3 linked regions of the Homo sapiens genome follow. The protein of the gene in region 2 purifies or fractionates together with the protein of the main gene of each other region. This does not show direct contact. Each region holds a gene or a part of one and is shown on either strand. Other genes may lie near its edges. The genes, in order: XPO7, TMEM108 and ECHDC1.

What was found.
Region 1: the proteins of TMEM108 (region 2) and XPO7 purify together in Homo sapiens (affinity purification with mass spectrometry; 2 studies listed by BioGRID and IntAct, with this or other methods). This does not show direct contact.
Region 3: the proteins of TMEM108 (region 2) and ECHDC1 purify together in Homo sapiens (affinity purification with mass spectrometry; one large-scale study listed by BioGRID and IntAct). This does not show direct contact.

Annotation. Positions count from the first base shown.
Region 1 is NC_000008.11:21,999,509-22,003,164, reverse strand, and holds part of XPO7 (exportin-7), read right to left. Parts: intron 3,630-3,656; coding exon 3,491-3,629; intron 1,054-3,490; coding exon 893-1,053; intron 1-892.
Region 2 is NC_000003.12:133,394,735-133,398,333, reverse strand, and holds the end of TMEM108 (transmembrane protein 108 isoform 1 precursor), read right to left. Parts: intron 2,471-3,599; coding exon 2,348-2,470; 3' UTR 559-2,347; downstream 1-558. UniProt on the Homo sapiens protein: Transmembrane protein required for proper cognitive functions. Involved in the development of dentate gyrus (DG) neuron circuitry, is necessary for AMPA receptors surface expression and proper excitatory postsynaptic currents of DG granule neurons.
Region 3 is NC_000006.12:127,333,482-127,337,137, forward strand, and holds part of ECHDC1 (ethylmalonyl-CoA decarboxylase), read right to left. Parts: intron 1-3,656. UniProt on the Homo sapiens protein: Decarboxylates ethylmalonyl-CoA, a potentially toxic metabolite, to form butyryl-CoA, suggesting it might be involved in metabolite proofreading. Acts preferentially on (S)-ethylmalonyl-CoA but also has some activity on the (R)-isomer.

The sequences.
Region 1 (3,656 bases), on a different chromosome or scaffold from region 2:
TAAAACGACAGATTCCAAATACAGGAGTATATTAGGCTGAAGGCCTTTTCTGTATAGGGTAAATCAGACAAATAGTTTGTGAAGCTTCATCTGAGTCTTCTATTTCAAGGTTACCTTTTCTTCTAAGATATTCATTTCCTTTCTTGTTCTTAAAATTGGTTTGAACTTCACTTACCAATGGATCTTTCCAGGTCACCCTGAGTTGTGGGGAATGGGATGGGGTCACGTAAACAAAATTACAGTAAGCAAAACCACCTTGCATGATCCCTTCCAGGTACTCGGAGTTGACAGCTTTATGACATCTTGTGAATGTAATGGAGTCCTGAATTATTTCACTGCTTCTTTAGAGAACGGTGTGGACAAAGGTAAGACTGGCTAAAATCTCAATAATTACTGATCCCATTTCCTTATCTATTTTCATCTAGCATGTATTTCTGTAAGTTACTTCAAGGCACATACAAATAAAATAAGGGCAAGCATATGGTTTGATCTCTCTGTGGCCAGTTATTTCCTTCTGTCTTGCATTCTTCTTCCTGTTTTGTAAACAGGAACACAAGCCTTTAGAAAGCTGGATGCTGCTAACTCCTGCTCTATTTATAGCAGTGGGTGAGCAAAGTAATTTTCACAGAAAGAGGATAGTGATCATGAGACAGGTCCAGGGCATAGGGATCACTGTGACACTCAGAAGAATAATCCAGAACCTGAGCGTTTTCTACATCCAGTGATTACTTGGCAAACTCAAAATCCACTGCAACTTTAAGACACGGACTTCATCTCAGCAGCAGGAACCTGATGAGATGTCATGTTAATCGTGTGTGGGCTCCCCTGTCTTGCAGAGGTCCTTCCTCTGTCGGACACCCCATCACTGCCTCCTAAGCCTCCACTTTCTTACCTGCTGGATCATCTCTGGATGCTGCTGCATGATGTGCAGAAAGCGGTCGCTCTCCTGGTTCAGGGGTGTGGTCCTCTTCTTGGTGCTACGTGACAGCTGCTTGAAGAGGTATGTCACAATGTGGTCCAGGCAGGAGCAGCAGCCTGTGCATACCATGGTGTCTGCAAGAAAGAAAGGCAGGGGTAGGACAGAGCTGCTGATGGTGGCCTGGACAAATATGGACTATCTTTGGGTGAGATCCATTAGGGTACCGTGGCCAATTCAACCAAGGCGGTTGCTCAAGATGACTCCTGTTAACCTCTTAACCTCATTGTACAGTAGGGCTCAATTTCTAAGTTTGAAAGTGAGTATGTGGTAATAAAGAATACTGAAATTATCGGCTCAATGTGTTGTGGATGTACGTACATCTTCTGCCTCACACAAAATAACAAATAGTTTGATTCAGCAAGTGCTTCTTTTGTGCCAGATGTTGTGCTAAGTACTTTATAGGTGTTATCTCTAATTTATCCTCTCAAGAACTCAGGAATTAGGTTTTCTGTTTTACAAATGAGGAAACCAGAATTAGGAGAGGTTATGTATCGGCCTAAGGATCAACTGCTAGTAATTGCAGGAGCTGTGATTAGAATCCAAGAAGCCTGGGGTATGAGCCTATGCTCTGAGTTACCAGTGGGATGTAATTAAACCCAGAATGACGTAGCCCCTGAATGTTTATGGTTTGTTAGAACACGGTATGCTGTATTATCTGTTTATCTCCAAAGCATCTCTGGGGGGAGCTGCAGACTCATCTATGCGTCTTTACAAAGGGAACAGTACAGCACAACCTGTGGACAGAACTCTGATGAGGTAAGGCCAAAGGACAAAGGGGCTGAACCCTTAAAAGAGTAAACAAGTCTCTGATTCCTACGGGACTGATAGTTTATGCAAACGTCCCTCTACTTGCTTTTTCTTTCTTTTTTTTTTTTTTGATACGGAGTCTCGTTCTGTCGCCCGGGCTGGAGTGCAGAAGTGGCACGATCTCGGCTCACCACAGCTTCTACTTCCCGGGTTCAAGTGATTCTTCTGCCTCAGCCTCCAGAGTAGCTGGGACTACAGGCACACACCACCACGCCGAGCTAATTTTTGTACAGAGACAGGGTTTTGCCATATTGGCCAGGCTGGTCTCGAGCTCCTGACCTTGTGATCTGCCCGCCTCAGCCTCCCAAAGTGCTGGGATGAGCCACCACGCCCGGCCAGGTCCCTGTATTTTCAATAAGACATAAAAAAGTCTTCCAAAGCAAGGGCTGATACCTTGATTGGACTGTACTAGATACGGCTATGCACCCTGATAGACTGATAGAAGTAAATGTGTATCAAAGTCGCACAGAGGCATGGATAATTCACCACAGTTGACAATCCAAAAGTGTATTTGCAACATATCATCACTATTTGGCAGTTGACTTAATCCTCCTACTTATGTTTTGCTCAGCCTAATATAAAAATGTGTTTTATTCTCTGAACACATATACCTACTAAGATTGTTGGGCCAGGCACGGTGGCTCATGCCTGTAATCCCAGTATTTTGGGAGGCCAAGCCAGGCGGATCATGAGGTCAGGAGATTGAGACTATCCTGGCTAACACAGTGAAACTCCGTCTCTACTAAAAATACAAAAAAATTAGCCAGGCATGGTGGCGGGCGCCTATAGTCCCAGCTACTTGGGAGGCTGAGGCAGAAGAATGGCATGAACCCGGGAGGCAGAGGTTGCAGTGAGCTGAGATCGCGCCACTGCACTCCAGCCTGGGCGACAGAGCGACTCCGTCTCAAAAAAAAAAAAAAAAAAATTGTTGGAAGGTAGCCTAGAAACAAAATGGTTGACAGAAACCATATGGACTAGGATGAAAAAACTTATGGAGCTAGCTGCATGAAACCTTTCCCCAGCTTCCACGGCCCTCAGGACAGAATTCAAACAGCCTAATACGGCTTACAGGCGGGCCCCCTTCATGATCTCCAGATTTGCTCCTGCTTATCTCTAAAGCTTCATTTCATTCCTAACTCCTCTGGACTAGTGTGCCAGCCATCTGGATTTCCTGGTTCTTTCTTGCCTACAGGTGCAAGTGCTTGCTGTCTCTGCTGCTAGGAACCCTCCCTGGCTAACCAGGGTAACATCTGTCCAGCTTTTAGGTTTATGCTTTGATGCCAAGTCTTCCAGCCAGTCTTCCTTGATCCTGACTTCCTCACAACCAAGAGTCTAGGTATTCTTGAGGGCTTGTGTAGCACTTTGTACTCACCCCTATTGTAATGTTTAAGTGGTAAGTATGGTAAACAGGCAGTTGTTTGTTCATGTGTCTGTTCTACCCACCAGATAAGCCCCTTAAGGACAGGGACTATATGCTGTTAATTACCGTATCCTCAGTGCTTCCACAGGGCCTTGTACTTAGGAAGGGAATCAGTGAGTGTGTGCTGGATAAGCATGTGCTGTGCATTATATACTCTATTGTTATGGCCAAACCCCCAAGGCAGTGGTGATCTTTTTGGACACTGGGGCAAGATTCTCTCTTTCTGTTTAGTTAAGTGGTAAAAAACAAACCCACCAACTCACCCACCCACCTCAGGTGCTTACCAAGTGCAGTAAGTCCTTCAGAAATGGAAGAGAGAATATACATGATGACGTGAGGTTCCAGGCTTGCAATAAAGTTCATATGGTCCTGGGTCAGGACTTCCAGTAGTGAATAATAAGACTGGCTGAGCTTGGGGTAATCCTGTGGGAGAGGAAGAGGAAGAAAATC
Region 2 (3,599 bases):
CACCACCCCTGATGCACCCAGAAGGGGCATGCGAGCCTGTGTTACAGTAACAGCCTCCTATACGGATGACACTGACTTGGTTCTGAGGATCTGCATTATTGTGAATTCCAAGATGTATTGTCCAAGGCTGAATGAAAAGTTCAGGCTACTGATTAAGTTGTGCACAAATGTGTCATGTTTAGGCATTGTTATTCTCTACAGAATGGTAACACTCAATGGCCAGGTTAACTTCAGACTTCTCCGGACCAAAGATATTTACTATATAAATCCACTCAGCCCTGGAGACAGGGAGAAAGAGGGGGGGATGTACTTTGACACCACTGTCTCCAAAGACCTGATGAAAGATGAGTCTGTTTTGGAGAAACTGCAAACATGTTCAAAAAGATTTATTTTATCAAATGATAAACTGCTAATCCTATTAGCTCATCACATACATAAAACTCAACTTACTGTTAAATCAGATTAAAAAATACAGATGGATATAAAGTGGTGTTGGTACTGCTTAAGGAAGACTTAGAGCTTATCTTGAAAAGAATGCAAAATGTATTAGCAACAGAATCCTCTGGCTAATAAAATAAGTTTATTTATATATACATGGTAGCTGAAATCTGTGGATAAGGAAAAATAAGTCATACATCCACATATGTATATATAACATATGTATCTTTGATTACATATATTATATATAAATTTTACTTTACAAACAGATTTTTCTCTGTATACTTACACACATTGGTATATTAAATGTAACAGTTAACAGAAATATTATGGTAAGGTTAAAAAGGTAAGACAACAACACGCTAGAAAATTAAACTTAGAGAAACATTTAGTTGCTTCTTTGTGGGTTGAAGAGTCTTTGAAGAGAGACAACAACCGAACTCATGTGAAGGAGGTTCATACAACATTGAGAACACACTTTTGAAGGCCATCTTTTTTTTTTTTTTAAGGAAAATGCAGAAAGAAAAAAGTCATGATAGACTACAGCAACAACACAAACATATGACCCAATATTCAAGTTCAATTCCCAATCTGACTATAAGAGCATCTATATTCAAAATATACTATCAAACTATTTTTCTTTTAGAGAAAGGAAGTGTCAAAGCAGTAATCATCTCTCTCAGCCACAATCAGGAAAAAATAGAGAAGCGGCCACCTCTGGAAGCCCCTTGGGCGTCTCTGAGGGTCTGACGTTGTTGGCCGTGCTGGACACAGCACGGGGAGGCAGCCAGCCGGCCGGGAACAAGGGGAGCAGTGGAAGCTGAGAGCTGGATGGCAAGTCCACCGGCTGGTGCTGCGAGCAGGTTTGCAGTGCCAAGTAGGAGTATAATGATGTCTTCTCCCAAATGATTTGTTTGGGCAATCTTTTTTTTCTTTTTTAAAGATTGCAGGAGGAAGGTTTCAAAAATTATCGCTCTACTACCTCAAAGCTTCTTAGATAAACATGTTCCTCAGGGGCACGATACCATGGCCTTTTGAGAAAACAAAGCTGAACCCCAATAAACATTTGATCCTTGAAGAAGGAAGGGCAAGCATTTTAAAGCTCCAGGGCCGGGATCTGCATCTAAACCCTCTCCAAGAGAAAGGCACGGGTGTTTAATGCAGATGTGGGTGTTGGAGGGGATACAGGAATGGGCATAAAGGGAGCATTTTCCCACCAGGGAAAGGCAGTCCTGTTGTTAGCAGTGGAAGTAATGTTAGGGGAATATGGCCTTGGGATGCCTTGATGTCCTCCATGGATTCCTGAGGGCTCCATGCTCCTGCCTGCCATCCACAACTTGGATGGAATTAAACATGACATCCAATGGTGCCGTCATAAGGCTCCAGGGTACTCATCCTCAGAGGTGATGAGATGTTCCCTTTTCCTTCTCTGTGCATGAGTCTGCCGTCTTCCCCTGAGGCGGTCCAGTTCCCTTTACAGGTGTGCGTATGAGAAGGGAGGAAATGGGGTCACACCAAATCAAGAGGAACCAGAGCTTTAAGAATCACTCAAAGAATCGTGCGCTTGCACTGTAACATTCAGCTTCTACAGGAGGTCAGTCTCTTACCTCACCTGACCAGGGTTCCTGGGATCCCCAGGTGCTCAAGAATAGTTATTAAGAGAAGCAATCAATGCAACTGCTTTGCTTAGAAATACCTTTATTTTATAAAGCCACAGATCATTCTGTAAAGTTTTTTTTTTTTTTAAACCACACTTGTAAAAAAGATGTTGACAATTCATAGGAAAAAAAGCTGAAAATGTTTCTCATTAAGTCAGGGTTACACAAAGGTTATATTTATAATATATGTATTTGTATATTTATAATTTAGAGACGAAAAATACGGAATGGCAAAGTGATGCCTGCTGTAGTTAGATCTCAGATACTTGATCGTTTCCCACAAACAGTGTTTCTTGACAGAAGGGGTTAACAAGGACCATCCCAGTGTCTCTATAGTCGCCATTGGCTGGGGAGCGGGGCTCTGAGAGCTGGTCCTGGGAAGAGAGAGGGAGGAGATGGAGTGAGCTGGAGAAGGCTTAAGAGGTGGCCATTCTTAAAGAAATGTACACATGGGAACATTTATTTCAGCACTGATGGCTTGGTGCACATTTTCATCATCCCTACTGCTAATGCTGAGGTGCACAGCCCTCTATGCCATTCTTTTAATTAATTTGTGTGTGTGTGTGTATGTGTATATTTTAATTTTTGTGCTGTTCTTTCATATTTTTATAGCAGCTTTCAAAAAATGTTCCCTGCTTCTGGAATCACCCCAATCCCAGGTTGCCAGAGATGGTACTGCTTTCCTTGTCAAAGTCTGAGGGGACTTGCCATGCATGACACACATACAGTGCATGGCTCACTGCACTAGTGGCAAAACTCAGTCCACTTGCACCCAGACTACTTCCTGCCTCTTTCTCACAGACTTCTGGGAAACTTCTCTGCTTTTCCTTCCTGAATACACCTAGACTCACTCGCCTGTTTCCTGCTACCCACCTGTCAGGATCTAACAGACCTGTCAAGAGGCTTCAAGGGCCAATTCCTTCCCGCTCTGAGTCCTTCCAGAGCCTGGTCAGAATTATTGCCCCATTTCTTATAGCACTAGTGATGCTGAGCTGAATGGATCTGCATCTCTGTGTGACTGCATAATAAGTGACAGATGAAAATTTCAGTCTGTATGTTCAGTTGCAGGAGCAGAAAAGCCTAGAAATAGGCCATCCACTGCCCAGAAGGTAATCTGTATGGCTTTGGCAGGGTTTTGGTTTCACTTACCAAGGACAAGCAAACATTTACGGGCTACTAAATGGCTGTACTTGGATTTGGGCCCTGGTACTAATTAAGAGAGAGAAAAAAAGAAAGTCATAGCTTCTTCCAATTAAAACAGCTAATGTCTTGGAACCTTCAAGCCATTTCAGGACAAAGACTCAACTATAGGCCTAGGTATACTGGCTCATGCCAGATTTGCTTAGCCACAATTAATTCTCTGAAGTTTATTTTTAAACAAAACATACATAACAGATACTTTCTGAGGAGTACTTACTGCTGTATGAATCATAAGGTAAGGAAGAAATGCCATTGTTGATAAAATGTCTTTTCAGAAGACAAGAATTTCCTTCAGTGTCTGGA
Region 3 (3,656 bases), on a different chromosome or scaffold from region 2:
GATCAATACATACCCATGTCTGATGGGTATGTATCTAGGAATGAAATTGTTGGGTTGGTGTGCTGCGGCCCAGTCTACACTGATGATTAAACATTTATTTTGCAAGTTGGTTCTTTAAACTATCAGTAGCTTGAAATTGACCATGGTGGGACTACATGACATATCAATCATACTCTCTTTCTCTTACACACACACACACACACACACACACACACACACACACACACACACACAGTTTACCAGTATACCACCAGTTATAATGTATGCATTTGCTCAACCTTAGAATATACTGTCAGTTTTTTAAAATAGCTGTACAAATGTATATTCCCACAGGCAGTGAAAGCTCCAGTTGCTCCACAAGTATCACTTCTTCTTTGTTTTTTCTATTTTAGGCATTCTAGTGGATGGTATCTTACTGTGGTTTCATTTTGTGTTTCTATAATGTCTAACGAAGATAAACCCCATTTTCTTATGCTTATTGGTCATTTGCATATCATCTTTTGTGAAGTTCCTGTGCAAGCTTTTTGCCCATTATTTCTATTTATTTGCCTTTTTATTAATTTGTTAGAGATCTTTTATTCTTCTGCTCACAACTTTCCTAAAACCTACAAGACATGAATCTCACATTTCTATCTCTAATTCAGACCTTATGCCTGTACTCCTTAGTATTGCCTAACAGAAATGCAATCCCTTACCCCTCATTTCTAGATTTATCATAGGCTTCTCAAAATCATTATTTAATCCTGAACTCATACTTCACGTAAAACCCATTACTCCTTCTTTCCCTGAACTATTCATTGTATCATCAACCCTGTAATCTATGCCAGAAAACCTCTAAATCAACCCAGTCTCCTTCTCCACCACTATTTGGAGGTCCGTATGCAATGGCCCTCCAAAATGGTTACTTCCTTCTGATCTTTCCCTCTCCTATTACTAATACAGTTCAAACTTCATTACATATAATCTGAATTAATACAACAGTCACCAGTTAGTAGCATACTGTTCTTTAGAGTAATGTGGATATGATTATAATCCAATCAGGACATTTCAAATTTAAGGTTTCTCAGTAGCTGTCTACCAAAAGGATCAAGTCCAAAGCTTTTTTTAAATTCTTACCTAAATCCTGAATCTCTTCTCGTCTGATATCTCTACACAATCAATACAGAACACCAAATAACCAGAGTCCCACAAATTTACCATGCTATTTTATATTATTGCTTCTCCCCTATATTGTTCTTTCCTCCCTCATTAACCTGGTAAATCCCCAATCATTTTTAAAAACTGAATTTCTATATTTCCACCTAAAAGTGATTCCCCAAGTAAAGATAATCACTCCCTTTATTTATCCCAGCTCAGTATACTGCAATAATGTTCCATTTTAACACATTCCTCAAATCATTTCAATTTTTCATTTGTTTTTCTCAGTTGGAAGGATGCTTCCTGAGAGTATTCTGAGGTACATACTTTGTGTCACTAGTGGCTACAGTACTTAATACATAAAAGGTACTTACTTAATAGTTAATGAGGGAGAATGTAGGCAAGTAAAAAAAATAACTCATCACGCAGCCAAAAGGAATGCCACAAACTTGTTTTATAGCTTTAAAAATATATCTAATATGTGAGTTATAAAATGGTATCAGAAACTGACAGAGAACATATAAAGGTTACAATACAATATCTGGTTTCCACTTTAAGTCACATGGCCTTCAAGTGACATTTTTACCAAAGTGTTTCCAATGAATACTTACCTGAACACACAGTGGGATGTAATCCCCTCAAACACATATATTTCAAAAACTTGAGAACAGTATTTCAAAACTTTACCAACTAAGGTGGCTTATAACTACAATATTGAAGATACCAAGACCTTTCTTAAATCTCCTCAAGGAGACTGAAGTGTAACTCAGATAAATTGTGACCTAATGCATTATATTTTAGAGTGTGACAAAAAAAGTAGCGGGGTGCTTGTCATCTTAAAAAATGGTATCTAAGAATAAAAACTTGATGTTATTTTTCCAAGAAAAAAAAGATGTTCTAACTTGCCATCATAAATCTTTGATAGGACCTGCTTTTAACTGTCATAACTTTATTCTTTCCCTTAATTTCAAATCTGTTATCGTCTTTCTTTGTATCCTCCCTCCCTCCCACCAAAAAAGTCACCAGTTGCCAGCAGCTATGGTTACCGAATAAAGAATAATGAAAGCACTGGGTGACCTACTTAATGAATTGTGATTAATAAGGTTTGGGTCAATGTGATATACAAAACTAATAAGCAACTAATAAGGAAAGTGGTCAAATGTTACAAGTTGCAAAATATCTAAATATTTAGTATTTTCAATACTTTAATGTCTTCATCTATTGGCAATTCCATACTCCTTTTCCAAAACTCATACAGTATAACTTATGAGACATCCTTCCATCCCATCACCTGTTCTGTCAAATTAGAAAATGATACGGTATTAACTGATTCTATGGTATTAACAGATTTTAAGGTATCTAAGGCCTCCTGAAGAACTAGAAAGCTAGAGGGAACAATGATCAAACATGATTTTGCAACATTCTAGGATATTTTCAGTTAATTCAAGGTACCCTGCAAGATTTTTAAAATAAACTTCAAAATAAAAGAATCTAATTAGAACATGGAAATGTTTAGTGACACAATAAAGGCAGAATGAAAGTTTATATCACAGATGTTCTCACCACCTAATTTAGTGCAATAATAGGTACTTTACCAGTACTACATAAAATTACCGGGCATGTAGAAGAATGAGAGGATACTGTGAAACTAAATAAAATTTTTAAATGCCAAAAATTACTGCCATATACTTAAATAATAGATTATTTAATTTTAAACAAATGATTCACTTGAAATAATGTTCCTGCAAATATTATTTTCATTCACTGAATATTATTCCCCATATTTAACTTATCTCTTTCCCTTATATAGCTCCATTACCCAAAACTGCAGTCTGGTTCAAAGACCTATTTCCCTGCTTTCCCAAAGGGAAGTAAAAGTTCTGTCTATGGAAAGGAAGTATTTCTGAAATTATTACCATTAGTTATCTACCATTATTGGAAAATGAGCTATCCTGGTCAAATAAACTCTCTCTTTAACTGGAAAGCAAAACTTTCCTGGGCAAGGACAAATTCTGTGGTTGAGAGTTTTCTTGCTCTAAGGCACACAGAACTGTATTTTTAAATATTTTACCCTGAAGGAGAAATAAAGTGATAAGCATAGAAAATTCAAGTCTACGGAAAATGGAAGCGGGGAAAAGTTTTACAAATAAAATGTTACCAATTACAAAGTGTGAAGTGGTTATGAAAAAAACACCAAGGATTTTAGACACTTTCTAAGTTATCACTCAAATGTAAATATCAAGTTGCCTCAAAATCTCTTAGCTAGTGGAAGCAACTTAAACTAAAAATTTCAGACTTTATTGAGAAATGCCAAGCAATGGGGCTTGAAACAAATTGGTTAACCACACTGAGGACTAAGCTCTGATTTTTTAATCTTGCCCAAATTCCCACCTAAGGGGTCTGGGGAGTCATGCCCTACAAACCATAAATTCTCATCAGATGGGTTTTATTTAACCCTGTATATTGTGACTTACTTTTCAATCTGACTCTGGCATAACATTCTAAGACAAGAAGAAAAT